Homo sapiens: one gene and its partners. The gene in region 1 interacts genetically with each later gene. Each region holds a gene or a part of one and is shown in the gene's direction. Other genes may lie near its edges.

Evidence for each region.
Region 2: changes in EIF3M (region 1) and ACACA together harm fitness more than expected from each alone (negative genetic interaction), as found in Homo sapiens cells (one large-scale study listed by BioGRID).
Region 3: changes in EIF3M (region 1) and VPS72 together harm fitness more than expected from each alone (negative genetic interaction), as found in Homo sapiens cells (one large-scale study listed by BioGRID).
Region 4: changes in EIF3M (region 1) and PSMD1 together harm fitness less than expected from each alone (positive genetic interaction), as found in Homo sapiens cells (one large-scale study listed by BioGRID).

What each region holds. Positions count from the first base shown.
Region 1 is NC_000011.10:32,596,631-32,601,077, forward strand, and holds part of EIF3M (eukaryotic translation initiation factor 3 subunit M), read left to right. Parts: intron 1-4,058; coding exon 4,059-4,202; intron 4,203-4,447. UniProt on the Homo sapiens protein: Component of the eukaryotic translation initiation factor 3 (eIF-3) complex, which is required for several steps in the initiation of protein synthesis.
Region 2 is NC_000017.11:37,246,038-37,250,484, reverse strand, and holds part of ACACA (acetyl-CoA carboxylase 1), read left to right. Parts: intron 1-1,810; coding exon 1,811-1,892; intron 1,893-2,328; coding exon 2,329-2,474; intron 2,475-3,508; coding exon 3,509-3,659; intron 3,660-4,447. UniProt on the Homo sapiens protein: Cytosolic enzyme that catalyzes the carboxylation of acetyl-CoA to malonyl-CoA, the first and rate-limiting step of de novo fatty acid biosynthesis.
Region 3 is NC_000001.11:151,179,908-151,184,354, reverse strand, and holds part of VPS72 (vacuolar protein sorting-associated protein 72 homolog), read left to right. Parts: coding exon 1-38; intron 39-4,447. UniProt on the Homo sapiens protein: Deposition-and-exchange histone chaperone specific for H2AZ1, specifically chaperones H2AZ1 and deposits it into nucleosomes.
Region 4 is NC_000002.12:231,066,612-231,071,058, forward strand, and holds part of PSMD1 (26S proteasome non-ATPase regulatory subunit 1), read left to right. Parts: intron 1-294; coding exon 295-500; intron 501-3,413; coding exon 3,414-3,557; intron 3,558-4,447. UniProt on the Homo sapiens protein: Component of the 26S proteasome, a multiprotein complex involved in the ATP-dependent degradation of ubiquitinated proteins.

The sequences.
Region 1 (4,447 bases):
AAAACAACTTAGCACTTGTAATCCCAGCACTTTGGGAGGATGAGGTGGGTGGATCACTTGAGGTCAGGAGTTCAAGACCAGCCTGGCCAACATGGCAAAACCCCATTTCTACTAAAAATACAAAAATTAGTGGGCATGGTGGCACATACCTGTAGTGCCAACTACTCAGGAGCCTTAGGCAAGAGAACCACTTGAACCCGGGAGGCAGAGGTTGCAGTGAGTTCAGATCACACTGCTGCACTCCAGCCTGGATGACAGAGTGAGGCTCCATCTCAAAAAACAAAAAAAAAAGAGAGAGAAAATGACTTGGAACCTTTTTGTCTCATTTAAGAGCTTGCTGAACTTTAGGCCCTTCCAGCTCTTCTGTACCATGATTCTTTGAGGTAAAGTTATATCAACAATCGGGTGTTTGGAGAAGATTGAAGAAATAGTTCCATTGGTACATTTGTTTTTAAAATTTAGAGATGGAGGAGTGAGCAGAAAAGCAACTGAAAGAATTACCATTACTTTGATCATAATGGTAACTTTCAGAAATGTTTTAAGAGCTGATAAAATTTGATGATTAAAGGTACTTTATTAAGCTAAACATTATTCTTAAAATAATATTGTTTCTTTGTAGAAGACTTTATTCCTTAGATATATGGTGATTTGTATTTTTGGTCCCTTTTTTTAAGCCATAGCCACAGAATGGTAACAAATAGTTTTTTCCCCCCTACTATACTATTTTATGCTTGGATACCCCCGCCATTAACAAATTACAAAAGTATATAGTATTGCCAGTTAGATCTGAAAGATGGAATTAGAAATGGAAATGTAATTTTACATGATAGTAAGACTTTTCTAACTACGTTTGTTGAAAACAGCATAGTCTTTATTATTTTTATCTTTGAATTTTCTTGTCTAGCGTATCAGTTCAGTAAATGTTTGTCAAATTGAATCAAATCTTATTCATCCTTATTGAGCAAACCCTACATATGTTCAATATTTTAATTTCCTTCTGGAGCATGTTTTTAACATACTAAAATACAAAGAGAAAACTCAGAAAATCTGCAGTTGAACAGGTTTTAAATGTTGTAAACTACCAGTTTCTTTACACTGGAGTCAACTGTGAAACTAAGGTGCTTTGTTCTCCTACTAGGCAATAATCAAAACACATTAGAGATTGATTATATTTTCCATATTAAGACTGAATTTTTTTTTGTTTTTGAGACTAGTCTTCCTGGTTCTTGACGATACAGATGAATGTATGGTCTATTTTGATAGTCTTCAATTTGGTAATCATTAATGCTTGTCACCTGTAAATTGTGTGCCTCCATTGGAATTGGGGAAGATTGACTTATTCTGAACATAATAAGGCATTTGAAATACACCAAGATAAAGTAGATGTAAGTGTGTTTGTGTAGAAAGCTTTGCCAGGTGCACTAGACCCAGAAAACCACATTCTGTCCCAGTTAATTTGTTTTGTGGCATGAAGCTATGTGATGGAATGTTAATGTCAGCAACCTCTTTATTTACGCACCAAGGAAAAAGGAGTAGTAATTAACACTTTGACACTCCCCCATTGATGTGTAATTGACTGTTTCAAAGGAGCACTGGTTCATAAGCTATTGCATGCATTAAAACTGGGTTTTCTATATTGCAGCATTTTAAGACAGGGGTCAGTGACAATGCAGAAATTGCTCAATGATGCACTTTTTTTATTACTGCATTAAGGTTTTGACATATTAGTAATGAATAAATGTTTCCATAAAATTAGATTTTTTATAACTTTAAAATTGAAATATGACACAGTACACTGTGACTTCCTCTTTGATGGTAGTATTTTAGTTTTATGAAACAAAGCACAGCTTCCTACAAAGTCTTTAACTCATACTTCACTGCCTTAGTAGTTTGATTTTTCAGAACAAGAGTCCTAAGGGTTTTAAGTTTGGTTCTTTGTTACTTTAAACATCAATTTAAAGTGTTTTTAGATGCAAGTTTTCACATGTAAAATAGATAACGGTTTTATGGAATTCAGCCTAGAAATAATCTTCATTCCTCTGATAAGTTTTTTCATTTATGGTAAGATTGTAACTGCAGAAAAGATAAGCAGTAAAATAGATTTAATTTCAGGAGTATTTAAAATAATAGAAATTTCAGAAGTTTCTATCACTTTATATTGAAAGAGAGTTGTCTGTCCATGCCAATAGAACTGAGAATGTTAAGGAATTTTTGAAAAAAATCTTTAATACTTATTCATTGATAAGAAAAAATTCGTTAACATTGCTAATTTATTGTGCCAGCTAGAATTCAAATTCCTTCATTTGCCTTACGTTTCTTGAACATCTATGCAAATCAGTATTCTATTAGAAATTTGTTTATATGCTTTTCAGAAAACATCTTTATATTAATGTGTATATTTTTTATTTTAATTCTATAATTAAACATTTATTACAGCTGAAAGCCTAGTGACAACTATCTAGATTCCACAAGTTGCAATCAGTTTGTCAGAACATTTTCCTTTATTAACACTGACAACTTAGGCCAACAGTAGCATTATCTTGTGTCAACTGAATTGCCCTAACATGTCCACATGTAATCTGGTGTTATCCAGTTGCTACCTTTTGCTTCAGAAAGTTAATCGGCATCTAATTTGCATTGTTAATTAGGGTTAATGTGCACTAATTGATTTCTTGGCGCCTGTAGATTTCCATTAAACCCAGTTAGCAATACTTCCTTGTATACCTCATTCATTTGAGTTATGGTGATCATGTTTTTGTTGAATCTGTGCCAAATAGGAAGCCTGTATCATAATTACAGCTAATTAACAGATGATCATGTCCTATGTTAATGGGCTTCCCTAATCTTCCACTAATATATGAATGTTATAAATTTAAAATTTATTTATGGAGTGTTTAGAGAGTGAACTTTTTAAACAATACAGACTTGAAGCTCTGAATTTATTACAGGGCACTTGATTGATCATTTGCTGATTTTACATAGTTCAAAAGTTCAGAGAAAAGGAACATGTAAATCTAGATTAGTTTTAGAAACTTAGTTTTATAATTAATAAGTTAGCATCAAAACAAGTATATATGATATTATGTTAGAATTCTGCTCCTACTTAGGACTAGGTTATATATTTAGGATTCCTAATTTTTAAAATTTCTAGCCCTTTATTTTAGAAATGAACCTATTCTAGGCCTAGCACTGCTATTTTTTGACTATAAGTCCCCATTTAATCTCTTTGCTCCTCAGTTTTGTTTTTAAAGTGAAAGGATCAGGACTGGGTAATTCCTTAAGTTTTCTTCTAGGCCTAACACATTGTTGTTATTTGAATAATTACAACAGCATGTTTCATTAGAAATTATAATGCAAAATTTGAATTATTTGTGCAATTTTCTACTTTTGTCTTATAAAGAACAAGTATCACTTTTAATGGTATTCTTTAATTATATCTAGTACTAACTGTATTGGCCTATAAATGTTAAATGACACACACACTTTGACAGTTTTGGTTTGTAAGTAGTTTTGATTTTTAAATAGTGACCTGAAGCAAAATGGAATGTTTTCATAACTGAAAATGTTTGTGAAAGTATTTTAAAACTTCAGGTTTACCAGTAATAGTAACACAGAAAAAACTAATAAGTAGATAAGAAATCCTCTGTGTTTAAATGAAGAGCTATTAGTGTGAAAAATAAGCTTAGGTAATTTAACTAAATAGAAATTGTTCTTATGAAATGTACTTTGTAGATTTTATCTCCTAAAATGTATAACTATTTAAAAATGTAAAATGTGCAAAACTTTTAGGGTCTAAAAATAATCATTTTATGGCCGATTCTTAACTTTGAATCTATCACCTATGGTACTATAGAAAAATTGTTTTTAATACTCTGTGGAGTCAGTTTATAGTTTGCAAATATAAGAAGCTTTGTCAAAATTGTTCTATATAAGTGCTCAAACAATAATTTCCACAATTACAAAAGTAAAAATAATTTCCACAGCTTAACATGAGATGTAATTGTGCAGGTCTTTAATTAGTATGAACACTCATCAGGCTTCACTATTCTGTTTTCTAGGCCTGTTACATGAACAGAATATGGCAAAAATGAGACTACTTACTTTTATGGGAATGGCAGTAGAAAATAAGGAAATTTCTTTTGACACAATGCAGCAAGAACTTCAGATTGGAGCTGATGATGTTGAAGCATTTGTTATTGACGGTAAGGCAGACAGAACATTTTCATTTATTTCTAGAATTTCTCATCTACTACATGGATCATAGTAAGATTTTTATCTGGAAACTGAGCCTTACACAACAAAGATTTGTTTATAGCAGATGTGTATTTAGTAGATTAGTGGATATATTTGTTGTAGGGTGAAAATTTAGTAGAAATATAAACTGCTATATTCTATCCCTTGAAATCACGTAGAACAAAGACGTTTAGGCAATACACCACTGTGGTTA
Region 2 (4,447 bases), on another chromosome or scaffold:
TGTATTTTTAGTAGAGACGGAGTTTCAACATGTTGGCCAGGATGGTCTCGATCTCTTGACCTCGTGATCTGCCTGCTTTGGCCTCCCAAATAGCTGGAATTAGAGGCGTGAGCCACTGCGCCCAACCTTAATCTTTATCTTTAAGAACAGTTAACACATTCATGTGGTTCAAAATTCAAAAGGCACAAAAAAGATAAGCAGTGAGAAGTCTCTCTCTTACCTCTGTTCCTTGGCCATCCAGTTTCCGTCCCCTATAGTAAATTCATATTACCAATTTCTTTTCTAACCTTCCAAAGATACCCTAAACTTACATGAACATATATATGTGTATTAGTCTGTTCTCACACTGCTAATAAAGACATTCCCAAGACTGGCTAATTTATAAAGGAAAGAAGTTTAATTGAGTCACAGTTCCAGATGGCTGGGGAGGCCTCACAATCATGGCGGAAGGCAAAGGAAGAGCAAAGACACATCTTTCGTGGTGGCAGCCAAGAGAGAAAATGAGAGCCAAGTGAAAGGGGTTTCCCCTTATAAAATGATCAGCTCTCGTGAGACTTATTCACTACCATGAGAACAGTATGGGGGAACCGCCCCCATGATTCAAGTATCTCCCACTGGGTCCGTCCCACACCACAAGAGAATTATGGGAGCTACAGTTCAAGATGAGATTTGAGTGGGAACACAGCCGAACCATATCAACATGCAATATTTGTTTCTTCCCACCTCCTGGTTTTTTAAAACTCAAATGGTAGCATGCTGTGAAGCTGTTATTTACCTTGCTTTTTTAACTCAACAGTATATTTTTTAAAGTGTTTTTTAGTTCACATCTTTTTAATGTCTGTATGTTTTGTTCCACATGTGAAAACATGCGCAACATCACTAATCATTAAGTAAATAAAATCAAAACCATGATGAGATACCACCTCACACCCATTAGGATGCCCACTGTCAAAAAACAGAAAATAGCAAGTATTGGCAAGTACGTAGAGAAATTGGGACACTTGTGCACTCTTGATGGGAATGTAAAATGATGCAGCCACTATTGAAAAATGGTATTGCAATTACTGAAAAAATTAAAAATAGAATTACCCTATGATCTGGTAATACCACTTCTGGGTATTCTGAAAGAATTGAAAGCAGGGTCTGAAAGATACTTGCACAGCCACATTCATAGGAGGATTATTCACAGTAGCTAAAAGATGGGAGCAACTCAGATGTTGGTTGATGGATGACTGGATAAACAAAATGTGGCATATACATACAATACAGTATTATTCAGCCTTAAAGAAGAAGGAAATTCTGACACATGCTAAAACATAGGTGGATCTTAAGGACATTAGGGCAAGTGAATTAAGCCTGTCACAAAAAGACAAATACTATATGGTTTTACTTATATGAAGTATGAAGAGTAGTCAGACTCATAGAACTAGAAAGTAGAATGACGGTTACCAGGAACTGGGGGGAGGGCGAAATTGGGAGTTGTTAATGGGTGTAGAGTTTCACTTTTGCCAGTTGAAAAAGTCCTGCAGATTGGTTGCAGAATAGTGTTAATATCCCCAACACTATAGAACTGTGCATTTTGTAATGGTTAAGATGGCAAATTTAATGTAATGTGTATTTTACCCTAATTTAAAAAAATCCATTGTAAGATTCATAATTGATGTGATCAATTCCTTACAAACGATCATTTAGGTATTTAGGTTGTTTCTAGTCTTTTGTTATTCTAGGAAATGCTACAATCAATAATGTTTTAGATTCTCTTATAACTGTTAGAACTTTGTAGTAAGTTCCTCTCTCATCGTTCTTTCAGGGGTCAAGTCCTTCCTGCTCATACACTTCTGAATACAGTAGATGTTGAACTTATCTATGAGGGAGTCAAGTATGTACTTAAGGTATGCAGAACCCCATTGGAGCTTGCACCTTACTTTTTTAGCTATCTTTCTTTAGGTTGAGAGGCAGGAGAAAAAGTTTGATTTAATGCAGGGATGGGGGTATTAGTGAAATTACCGTCATTATTTTTGTCAGTGTCCTGAAGCAGCGTTTGTTGTTCTATGAAAATCTTTTTTGTTGTTCTTCAACTTCACATACACTGCCAAGAGATAAAGGAGAGACAGAGAACAACCACAGTTGGGGAAAATCAACTAAGGTTGCCCTCTTTGCTTACAGCAGGACTGAGCCATGTCCACAGACACTGATGCAAATAGCATCAGTGCCATGAATTTTCTTCCTCCTGACAGATCTTTCTTATCTGTATTTTTGAAGCATTCAAATTTCATTTGGAGCTGTACCTGGAAGGGACACACTGATCCTCATTCTCATTCCCTACAGGTGACTCGACAGTCCCCCAACTCCTATGTGGTGATCATGAATGGCTCATGTGTAGAAGTAGATGTACATCGGCTGAGTGACGGTGGACTGCTCTTGTCCTATGATGGCAGCAGTTATACTACGTATATGAAAGAGGAAGTGGATAGGTAAGTGGCTGTTTGAGGTCCATTTGCTGGTCATCCTGTTAGCCTTTTCTCTTATTAGCTACTAGCTCTTGGGATTTTCCCAGGCTTTTCTTGGTACTCATTTGTAGTTAAAAAAAAAAAAAATAGTACATGCACTTAACAAAAATATCAAGAGTATTAAAGTGTTTATAATTAAAAACATGTCTCCCTACCACTCCAGTGTATGTGGACAATGAAAAATAAGTTCCCCTTTTTATAAGTAACCATTGTTAAAAGTTTCTTACATATTTGAGTAGAAATTTTATATGCATATACAAGTTACACTCATGTACATACTGTTTTTCTTTAAATACATTCACAAATGTGGCTGGGCGCGGTGGCTCACGCCTGTAATCCCAGCACTTTGGGAGGCCGAGGCAGGTGGATCACCTGAGGCTGGGAGTTCAAGACCGGTGTGGCCAATGTGGTGAAACCCTGTCTCTACTAAAAATACAAAATTAACCAGATGTGGTGGCTTATGCCTGTAGTCCCAGCTACTTGGGAGGCAGAGGCAGGAGAATCACGTGAACCTGGGAGGTGGAGGTTGCGGTGAGCCGAGATCACGCCATTGCACTCCAGTCTGGGCAACAAGAGCAAAACTCCGTATCAAAAAAAAAAGAAATTCACAAATGTTCAACACCAGTTATGGTGTTATGAGAATGAAATAAATTAACATGTTGAAAATGTGTAGAACATTGCCACAACATAGCTAGGCTTCAAGAAATGTTAGCTATTACGTCATCAATATCTTTGTGTGTGTTTTTTTAAATGGTGGTACCTGTTATTTTTAATAGTCATGTGGTATTCCATTATATGATTATACTATATTTAATCTGATCCTTATTGAAGGAAATTTATGTTAATTGACATTGTAAACAAATATGCAGTGAATATGTCTGTGTGTGTGTATAATAAAGTTTTCAGGATTTTTTTTCTTTGAAGGTTGACATTCTCTACCATTCTCCTTTACATCCTGAGGTGCTTTCTTAGCTTACATACTTCCACTTGTCTCCTAGATATCGCATCACAATTGGCAATAAAACCTGTGTGTTTGAGAAGGAAAATGACCCATCGGTGATGCGCTCACCTTCTGCTGGGAAGTTAATCCAGTACATTGTAGAAGATGGAGGTCATGTGTTTGCCGGCCAGTGCTATGCTGAGATTGAGGTCAGGGTGGTGAAAGGACTGTGGGATCATGGGAGGGGAAGGTAGGAAAAGGGTCGGCTGGGATGGACTAGGACTGAAAAGTTACAGAAAGGAGGCTGGGCACAGTGGCTTGTGCCTGTAATCCTACCACTTTGGGAGGCTGAGGCAGGAAGATCGCTTGAGCCCAGGAGTTCGAGACTAGCCTGGGCAAGATGGTGAGACCCCATCTCTATGAAAAATTAAAAAATTAGCGGCGTACAGTGGCACATGCCTGTAGACCCAGCCACTCTGGTGTCTAAGGCGGGAGGATCCCTTGAGCCCAGGAATTCAAGGCAGCAGTGAATGGAGATTGTACCACTGTACTGGAGTGGTACAATTTGTGGCCTGCGTCACAAATCAAGACCCTATTTCTAAAAAATTAAAAAAAAAGGTAACAGATTGGAAATAAGAATGAAAAAGAAACATCAGTTGGCTTAATTAGAAGTGCGAACCTTAAGATTTTTAAAACACATAGGCAAATGAGGAATCTCTAGTTCTAAAAATAGATACTAGGCAATAGCACTTGTTGAATGTTAGGTGTCCTAACTGCTGGCTATCCAGAGAAAATACATGGAGGTGGGGCACAAAACAGACAAGAAATGTCATGTGATTAATTTTAAGAGAGCTAAGCATAGAGTGCAGAGGGTCACCTAACCCAAATCAAGCTAAGCTTGTATGGGAAGATATTCTGAAAGAAGAGACATTTGATCTTAGTTTTGAAAGACAGATAGTGATAGAGCAGGTGAAGAAGGGCAGGGAAGAGTGCTTAA
Region 3 (4,447 bases), on another chromosome or scaffold:
GGCCAAGATCACAGAAGAGCTTAATTTACGGTCACTGGGTAAGTCTGTGGTTTCAGAAAAAGTGAGTAGAGGGGCTGAGGGGCATGAGAAAAACCATGAGACCTGGAGGACCAAAGAACTGGAGAGATGGAAATTTGGGATGATGGAATCAGAAGGAAGAAATGGCGGAGAGTAGGTAATTAGGTGCAAGAGTCTAGGCAGTTATGAGCACTCTGAAGAACAAGCTAAGGTACTTTGGTGTAAAATAAGAGTTGTATAGAACTGAGGTCAAATCCTCGTTCTGCTATTCATTTGCTTTAAGTCTGTAGGTAAATTACTTATTCACATTTTGCTTTTCTTGTTTATAAAATGGGGTATATACCTAATGACTCAGGAAATTTAGGCAGGAGGATCACTTGAGGCCAGGAGTTCATAACCAGCCTGGACAACATAGTGAAACCCCATCTCTTAAAAAAAAAAAAAGCAGGGGGTGATAATGTTGACTTTAATGATAATCATGAGAACGTGAAGTCAGCAGATTAGTCCTTCATGAGATAAATTGCTTTAAAAATCTCTTCATTTTATGGTATTGCTTTAAAAATCTCTTCAGTTTGGGCCAAGCGCAGTGGCTCATACCTGTAATCCCGGCACTTTGGGAGGCCAAGGTGGGTGGATCACTTGCAGTTGGGAGTTCCAGACCAGCCTGGCCAACATGGTGAAACCCTGTCTCTACCAAAAATACAAAAATTAGCTGGGCATGGTGGCGCATGTCTGTAATCCCAGGTACTTGGGAGGCTGAGGCAAGAGAATCATTTGAACCTGGGAGGTGGAAGTTGCAATGAGCCGAGATCACACCACTGCACTCCAGCCAGGGCTACAGAGCGATTGGTTTGGACCACTGTAAGGAGAGTGACTCCCAGGTTTTCCTTTCTTTTTTTTTTTTTTTTTTTTTTTGAGACAGAGTCTTACTCTGTCGCCCAGGCTGGAGTGCAGTGGTATGATCTCGGCTCACTGCAAGCTCCGCCTCCTGAGCTGGAGATTCTCTTGCCTCAGCCTCCCAAGTAGCTGGGATTACAGGTGCCCGCCACCATGCCCAGCTAATTTTTTTGTATTTTTAGTTGAGATGGGGTTTCACCATGTTGGCCAGGCTGGTCTTGAACTCCTGACCTCAGGTGATCCACCCGCCTCACCCTCCCAAAGTGCTGGGATTACAGGCTTGGGCCACCCCGCGGCAATTCCCAGGTTTTCAACATCAGTAACTGGCTTAGGAGACCCTGAAGGAGGAGCAAGTTCAGTGGGGAAAAAACAAATTTATTTTTGAACATGTTGAATTTAAGGAGTTTGTGAGCAATTCATGCAGTGATGAGAGGTCAGTTAAATATGCAAATCTGGTGTTCCAATAAGAGATCTGGGCTGAAAATACAAATTTGGAAGTCTTTAGAATATGGGTGGTAATTGACAATATTGGAGTGCATCTGAGCATGTAGGGAGAAAGCTCAGAGTGAGAAAACAGAGGCCTGATAGAGTCCTGCAGACACTAAAATGTGATAGTTTCATACAAGAGGAGGAGCTTTGAAAAGAGCCTGGAAGTGACCAACGAGTTGGAGAAACCCAGGAGAGTTTGTGTTAAAAATGCCAGGAAAGAGAATGTCTCAAGAGAGTAATTGCTGCTGAGACGATGATTAGTAGAACTGAGAAGTGCCCATTGGTTTTGGTGAGATAGAGGTCAGACATTACCTTAGCACTTTTTGGGGACCAAGTCGAATCAAAGTATATTGGGGAGCAAAACTTTTCAAGCTTGGCCATGAAGGGTAGAAGAGGGAATGGAAGCTACAGAGGGGTGTGAGATTAAGGTAAAGTTGTTTTTATTTTATTCGAAGATATTAGAAATTATGTCTTTCATGAGAAAGAACTGAGTTTAAAGAAAGAGAAGAAAAAACGGTTATTAATAGTGTAGGTTTTTGGAGATGGGAGGCAAGGCTGGGAACCAGAGCAGCATGGTGGAGGAATTGGCTTCAGATGGGGGAAGGGAGAAAGAAAGTGTGGTGGCCGGGCGCCGTGGCTCACACCTGTAATCCCAGCACTTTGGAAGGCTGCGGCGGGTGGATCATCTGAGGTCAGGAGTTCGAGACCAGCCTGACCAACATGGAGAAACCCTGTCTCTACTAAAAATACAAAATATTAGCTGAGTGTGGTGGCACATGCCTGTAATCCCAGCTACTTGGGAGGCTGAGGCAGGAGAATCACTTGAACCCGGGAGGCGGGGGTTGCGGTGAGCCGAGATCGTGCCATTGCACTCCAGCCTGGGTAACAAGAGTGAAACTCTGTCTCAAAAAAAAAGAAAGAAAGTGTGGCTTAGCTGAGTGCAGTGGCTCATGCCTGTAATCCCAGCACTTTGGGAGGCCAAGGAAGGAGGATCGCTTGAGCCCAGGAGTTCAAGACCAGCCTGGGCAACATAGTGAGACCCTGTCTCTGTTTAAAAATGTGGCTTACAGTTGTAGGTTTGTAATCCAGAGGGAGGGCATGGCGGAGGTTCTCACCTGATGTCTTTTTCATTATGCAGCACCATCTGTCAAACATTAAGGATACAGCTGGAAGCTTGAGGAGACTGAGGAGCATTTAAATAGTTATTGATGTGGGATATTGAGCAGTATTGAGGGACCTGCTGAAGGCTAGGACCATGAATTTATGGTGGTTCCAGTCTGTGCTGTTATTTTTCTCCAGTAGCACTCAGCAGTCCAGATCAGGGCAAGGGAATTATTGACAGGAGAGTGACTGAAGTGATTGAAATGATACAGTGAGCAACCTAAGCATGATTTAAAAAGGAAAATGTGACTGGGCGCGGTGGCTCACATCTGTAATCCCAGCACTTTGGGAGGCCGAGGCAGGCGGATCACAAGGTAAGGAGTTCGAGACCAGCCTGGCCAACATGGTGAAACCCCGTCTCTACTAAACATACAAAAAATTAGCCAGGCATGGTGGTGCGTGCCTGTAGTCCTGGCTACTCGGGGGGCTGAGAATCACTGAGGAGAATCACTTGAACCCGGGAGGCGGAGGTTGCAGTGAGTGGAGATCGTGTCGCTACACTCCAGCCTGGGCAACAGAGTGAGACTCAAAAAAAAAAAAAAAGTAAAGTGACATGGAAAAGAAGGTTGTTAGAGATGAGGTGATAAACTGTGGCCATGCAGTGTTGAAGGGGCTACCCATGTGCACTTCGAAGTCACCAGGGTGACCCTAAGATGATGGGAATTGGGGTAGAGACGAAGAGTGGAAACCACTGCCAAAGTCTTCAGTGAATGAAGGAGTGACCATGACTAGGAAGGAGAGAAGTTAATCTAGACTCTTGGCACAGGTCTCAAAAGAGAAGGGAGTTTGCTGGTAGGCAGAAAAGCAGTGCTCTGAAAGCTACAGGGTGGGGCCCAGTAGGACATAGGTATATCCTGTAGGGATGTAAGAGAATGAGCAACCTCCACCAGAGGTCTGCAGAGAGGAGTGGTGGCCTCAGTGAATGACCAGGTTTCTGTTAAGGCAAGTCATGGAAGGAATGCTGAGTGAGGAGCTTGAGGATATAGATGAGTTGGCAGATTACAGAGCACGAGTTCCAGAGGGTGTAGGCAAGTGTTTGAAAGTAGAGGGGTTGGGCCAGGCGTGGTGGCTCACGCCTGTAATCCCAGCACTTTGGGAGGCTGAGGTGGGCGGATCACGAGGTCAGGAGTTCCAGACCATCCTGGTCAACATGGTGAAACCCCGTCTCTACTAAAAATACAAATATTAGCTGGGCATGGTGGCACGTGCCTATAGTCCCTGCTACTCAGGAGGCTGAGGCAGGAGAATTGCTTGAACCTGGGAGGGGGAGGTTGCAGGGAGCCGAGATTGTGCCACTGTACTCCAACCTGGCGACAGAGCAAGACTCTGTCTCAAAAAAGAAAAAGAAAGTAAAGGGGTTGAGGCGTTGGAAGACTGGCTCAAAGGAGAGAAAGCAGTATTATCAAACAGTTCAAGTGCAAGAGAGGTTCAATCATTGGAAGGGTTTCCAGAGTACTCTTTTTTTTTTTTTGAGACGGAGTCTTGCTCTGTCACCCAGGCTGGAGTGCGATGGCACAATCTCAGCTCACTGCAACCTCCGCCTCCCAGGTTCAAGTGATTGTCCTGCCTCAGCCTCCCGAGTAGCTGAGATTACAGGTGCAAGCCACCACGCCCAGCTAATTTTTGTATTATTAGTAGAGACAGGGTCTCACCATGTTGACCAGGTCTGTCTCAAACTCCTGACCTCAGGTGATCCACCCGCCTAGGCCTCCCAAAGTGCTGTAATTACAGGCATGAGCCACCGCACCTGGCCTCCAGAGTACTCTTTTATGGTCAGACTTTAGGGAATTGTGTTCATCATAACCATATTTAAGGACACAGAAATCTGGAGTTCATTCAGAGGAAGGGGACGAGGAATATTTTGATTCATTTTTTTTCGTAT
Region 4 (4,447 bases), on another chromosome or scaffold:
CATGTGATCCTCCTGCCTCAGCCTGCCGAGTAGCTGGGACTGTGGGTGAGCACTACCACACCTGGCAGATAGAAATGTTTTGAATAATGTCAACTGGATTGGAATTAATGTGTAGTTCTCCGGTGTAAATATTATGGGAGAACAGTATTCAAATGCATAAGTTCTAGCATTTCAAAATTTGCTTATTGCTTTATAGTCATCCCATAAGTATATATGATTATAAATATAGGCATTGCCCTTTCTGATAGTTTAGCCCAATTTACAAGATAATCAGTTATTTTATTTCCTCAACAGCAAAATGCATTGATCACTACACCAAACAATGTGTGGAAAATGCAGATTTGCCTGAAGGAGAAAAAAAACCAATTGACCAGAGATTGGAAGGCATCGTAAATAAAATGTTCCAGCGATGTCTAGATGATCACAAGTATAAACAGGCTATTGGCATTGCTCTGGAGACACGAAGACTGGACGTCTTTGAAAAGACCATACTGGAGTCGGTAGGTAGATGATGTTATTTTAGAAATTATTGTTGATAGGGAATCAGCAAAGCAAGTTATTCAAACTGAAACTTTCATAGGCAGTGAAAAGAAAATCTAGTTTAGAAATAGCAGGTGATCTTTTGCCAAATATTTTATTTTCATATTTATGTATGAACCTTGGTTGTGTTTTGTGTTCATGAAATATCTGCTTTTATCTTACCACATAATCCTTTGAAGTCTTGCATGGGGAAGTTGTATTAATTACTCTGCCCTTTTTAAGAAGACAATAAACTATATTTTAATGCATTTATTAGGGTTAAAACTACTCAGCTAGATTCCTGGTTTGCGGTGTTTGCAATAATTAAGACAATTTAAGTCACCAACCGAAGTGGTCAGAAAGGTACAAAGCTGAGTAAAATGGACATTGATCTGCAGGCTTACTTTGCCTCACCAGCTATTTCTTTCCATGAGCTAGCTCTCTGTACACTAGCCATTTTGGTATCTTCTCATCTAGATGAACCCTGCCTCGTTCCCCCTTCCAAAAATATTTTTTACATTTCTTTTTTCTTTCTTTTTTTTTTGAGATGGAGTCTCGCTCTGTCAACCAGGCTGGAGTGCGGTGGCGCAATCTTGGCTCACTGAAACCTCTGCCTCCGGGGTTCAAGCAATCCTCCCATCTCAGCTTCCTGAATAGCTGGGATTACAGGCGTGTGCCACCACACCCAGCTAATTTTTGTATTTTTAGTAGAGTTGGGGTTTCATCATGTTGACCAAGCTGGTCTCAAACTCCTGACCTCAAGTGATCCACCCGTCTCAGCCGCCCAAAGTGCTGGGATTATAGGCATGAGCCACCACACCTGCCCTCCATTCCTTTCTTTGCCTGCTTTATTTCTCCTCACAATCCAAAACTTAGCTCAACTATCCCTTGTTTGCAGAACTTTGATCCCAATACCCATGCCTTCCTCAGCCCCTAAGCAAAGACTAGGTCCAGTTCTGTTGTTAATCTTATGGAGCCCTGTACATTTTTTCATGGTGTTTATCCCTTGATAATTGTATTAGTAGATAGTTAATAGCTGTCTTTCCCACTAGATCATAAGCTATATCGGGACAGGTATTTGTGCCTTTTTCACCACTGTATCCCCAAAACCTAACACAGTGTTTAGCGTCGATAATACGATTTGTTTAAATGAGTGAATGAATGAATGGCCTAATGTGATATAATGGCCCTTGTTTCCCTCTCAATTTCATTTTTGTGCAGTTTTAGCCCATCCTTGTCTTCGTGTGTGTAAGATTACATTTTTGGCTTTCATTTATTCAACAAATATTTTTTCAGTGCTTACTGTTTGCCAGATACTGTTCTAGGCATTGGAGATGTGCATTGTCCCCATTCATCCATGGTTTTGCTCTCTGTGGTTTCAGTTACCTGCAGTCAACTACAGACTGAAAATATTAAATAGAAAATTCCGGAAATAAACAATTCATGTCTTAAATTGTGCACCATTCTGACTAGCACAACGAAATCTCTCACCATCTCTTTCCATCCCGCATGGGATGTGAATCATCCTAGTAGATCTATGCTGTGTACACTGCCTATTAGTCACTTTAGTGGCCACCTTGCTTATCAGATTGACTGTCGCAATATCACAGTGCTTGTGTTCAGATAACCCTTATTCTACTCAGTAATGGCCTCAAAGTACAAAAATAGTGATGTTGGCAATTTAGATATGCTAAAGAGAAGCCTTAAACTGCTTCCTTTAATTGAAAAAGTGAAAATTCCCAACTTAATAAGGAAAGAAAAAAAATTGTGCTGAGGCTGCGCTGAGATGTACATAAGAATGAATCTTCCATCCATAAAATTGTGAAGAAGAAAACAGAAATTTGTGCATAATTTATATAGAGTTTGGTACTGTTTGTGGTTTCAGGCATCTGCTGGGGGTGCTGGAACATAGTCCTCTCAGATAAAGGAGCACCTACTATAGTAGCAAACAAGACCAACAAAGTTCCTGCCCAAAGCAAACACTTCATTGGGGAATCTAGAAGGAGAACAAGCAGTCAAACAAATAAATATATAAAGTAAAAGAATGAAAAATGTTTTAAAAAAAAAAAAGCAGAGTAACAAATGCATCTTTCTTTGTATCCCAGTGCACATATACATATAGATGTAATTTAAGCTTTATGAAACTAATACCTACTCTTACTACTTGTGATATAACTCTGTTATTTTTAAATTGTATTTTTTATTTTTTTAATTTGCTAGTCACACTTCATTAAATTGATTTTATTACGCAGTGGAAAGTCACAACTCACTTTTTGAGAAACACTCCTGTAGCTTTCAGTGTGCTAATTTATGTTGAAGGCCTTTTACAGGGTGAAGTCTCAAATATTGGGGATACTTTTGAGAATCACCAAGTAAACACATAGAGCCTGGATCAAAGTTTTCTTGTAGGGAGAGCACCAGACAGATGTGGCAGTACTCAATGCTTGAGTCACTGAGAGCTGTGTTGTGTTTCCTGGCCAGCAAGTGAGTGTAGGCAGTAAGTCATGAGGGAGTCTAGTAGCAAGATAAGAAGCAGAAAGACTTCAGCAGACACATTTGGAAAACATAGCTACTTAGTGTATGGACAGTTGTATATCTTTTATAATAATTAACAGCATCACTTTATTATAGTATACTATGTTCATGTAATAGTGATTCTGAGTACCACTAAATATTATTTTTAATCCATTTTTTATGATGATGTGGAAATATGTAATTCTTTTAAGATTTTCATCTAAAATGGTTTAAAATTCTTGAGTTTGTATTGCTTAAGAGGTCTAAATAATTGGCTTCCTAGATTGGCTAAAGAAGCAAGATTAAAATAATTCAATTTCTAAATAAATATAATGCTGCAATAACCAGATAACGTTATATCTTTAAACTATCTCTTTCAGAATGATGTCCCAGGAATGTTAGCTTATAGCCTTAAGCTCTGCATGTCTTTAATGCAGAATAAACAGTTTCGGAATAAAGTACTAAGAGTTCTAGTTAAAATCTACATGAACTTGGAGAAACCTGATTTCATCAATGTTTGTCAGGTAATGACATTAAATTATGTTTCATTACATTGCTCCACGCTGTACTGTGCTATGCTATACCACTTCACATTTTATTACTTTATATTACTATAATGGCTTTATACATGTATCTCAGCTGATCTTCACAGCAGCCCTGTGAAAATAAGGTATGTGCTTTATATTCCTTTTTATTAATAAGAAACTAAATCTCACAACACTAAAAAGCTATTTTGTTGTAACACATTCTTTCTTTGTATTCTTTTTTCATTTTGAAAATCCAATAATTTAAGGAAATTTTTAGAAATAACGAAGGTTTTTTAAAAAGCTAGAAGATTAAAACAGTGCCTATGCTATACTATATCATTCTAAAGAGAATTCAAAGTGTATAAATTATATATGGTTTCATTACCCATACACACCAAAACATTTGGGTATCTTTTCTTTATCTCTTTCTATATATAAATTTGCTTGCACATAAAAAAAAATTCAGATGGTACAGAAAATATATAAAATGAAAAGTAAGGCTTCTCTTTCCCATCATTTGGGCTTTTTCCCAAAGGTAAGACATAGATGTTTTTCCCTACTTATTCACACATGTGGATCTACTGCATTCTTTTAATGACTGTATTGTATTTTATTGACTGGAGGTGTGCATGGGTTTACTTTTTAACAATTGCTATGTTGTATACATTTTTTGTATTCTGCTCAGGGCATAGCATTTTATTGCACATTTTATTGTTTCTTCATTAAAATGTGCTCCTGTGTATTTTAATCCTCTAGACTTTGAAAATTTAGATTAAAACACTGTTTTTTACAATCCCTTTTAAAGCAAGTTTGAAACAAAATACTAGAAGAAAAAATATCCATGTTTAAATCACCCAAAGTCAACTTACTATTCTAACTTGATTTTT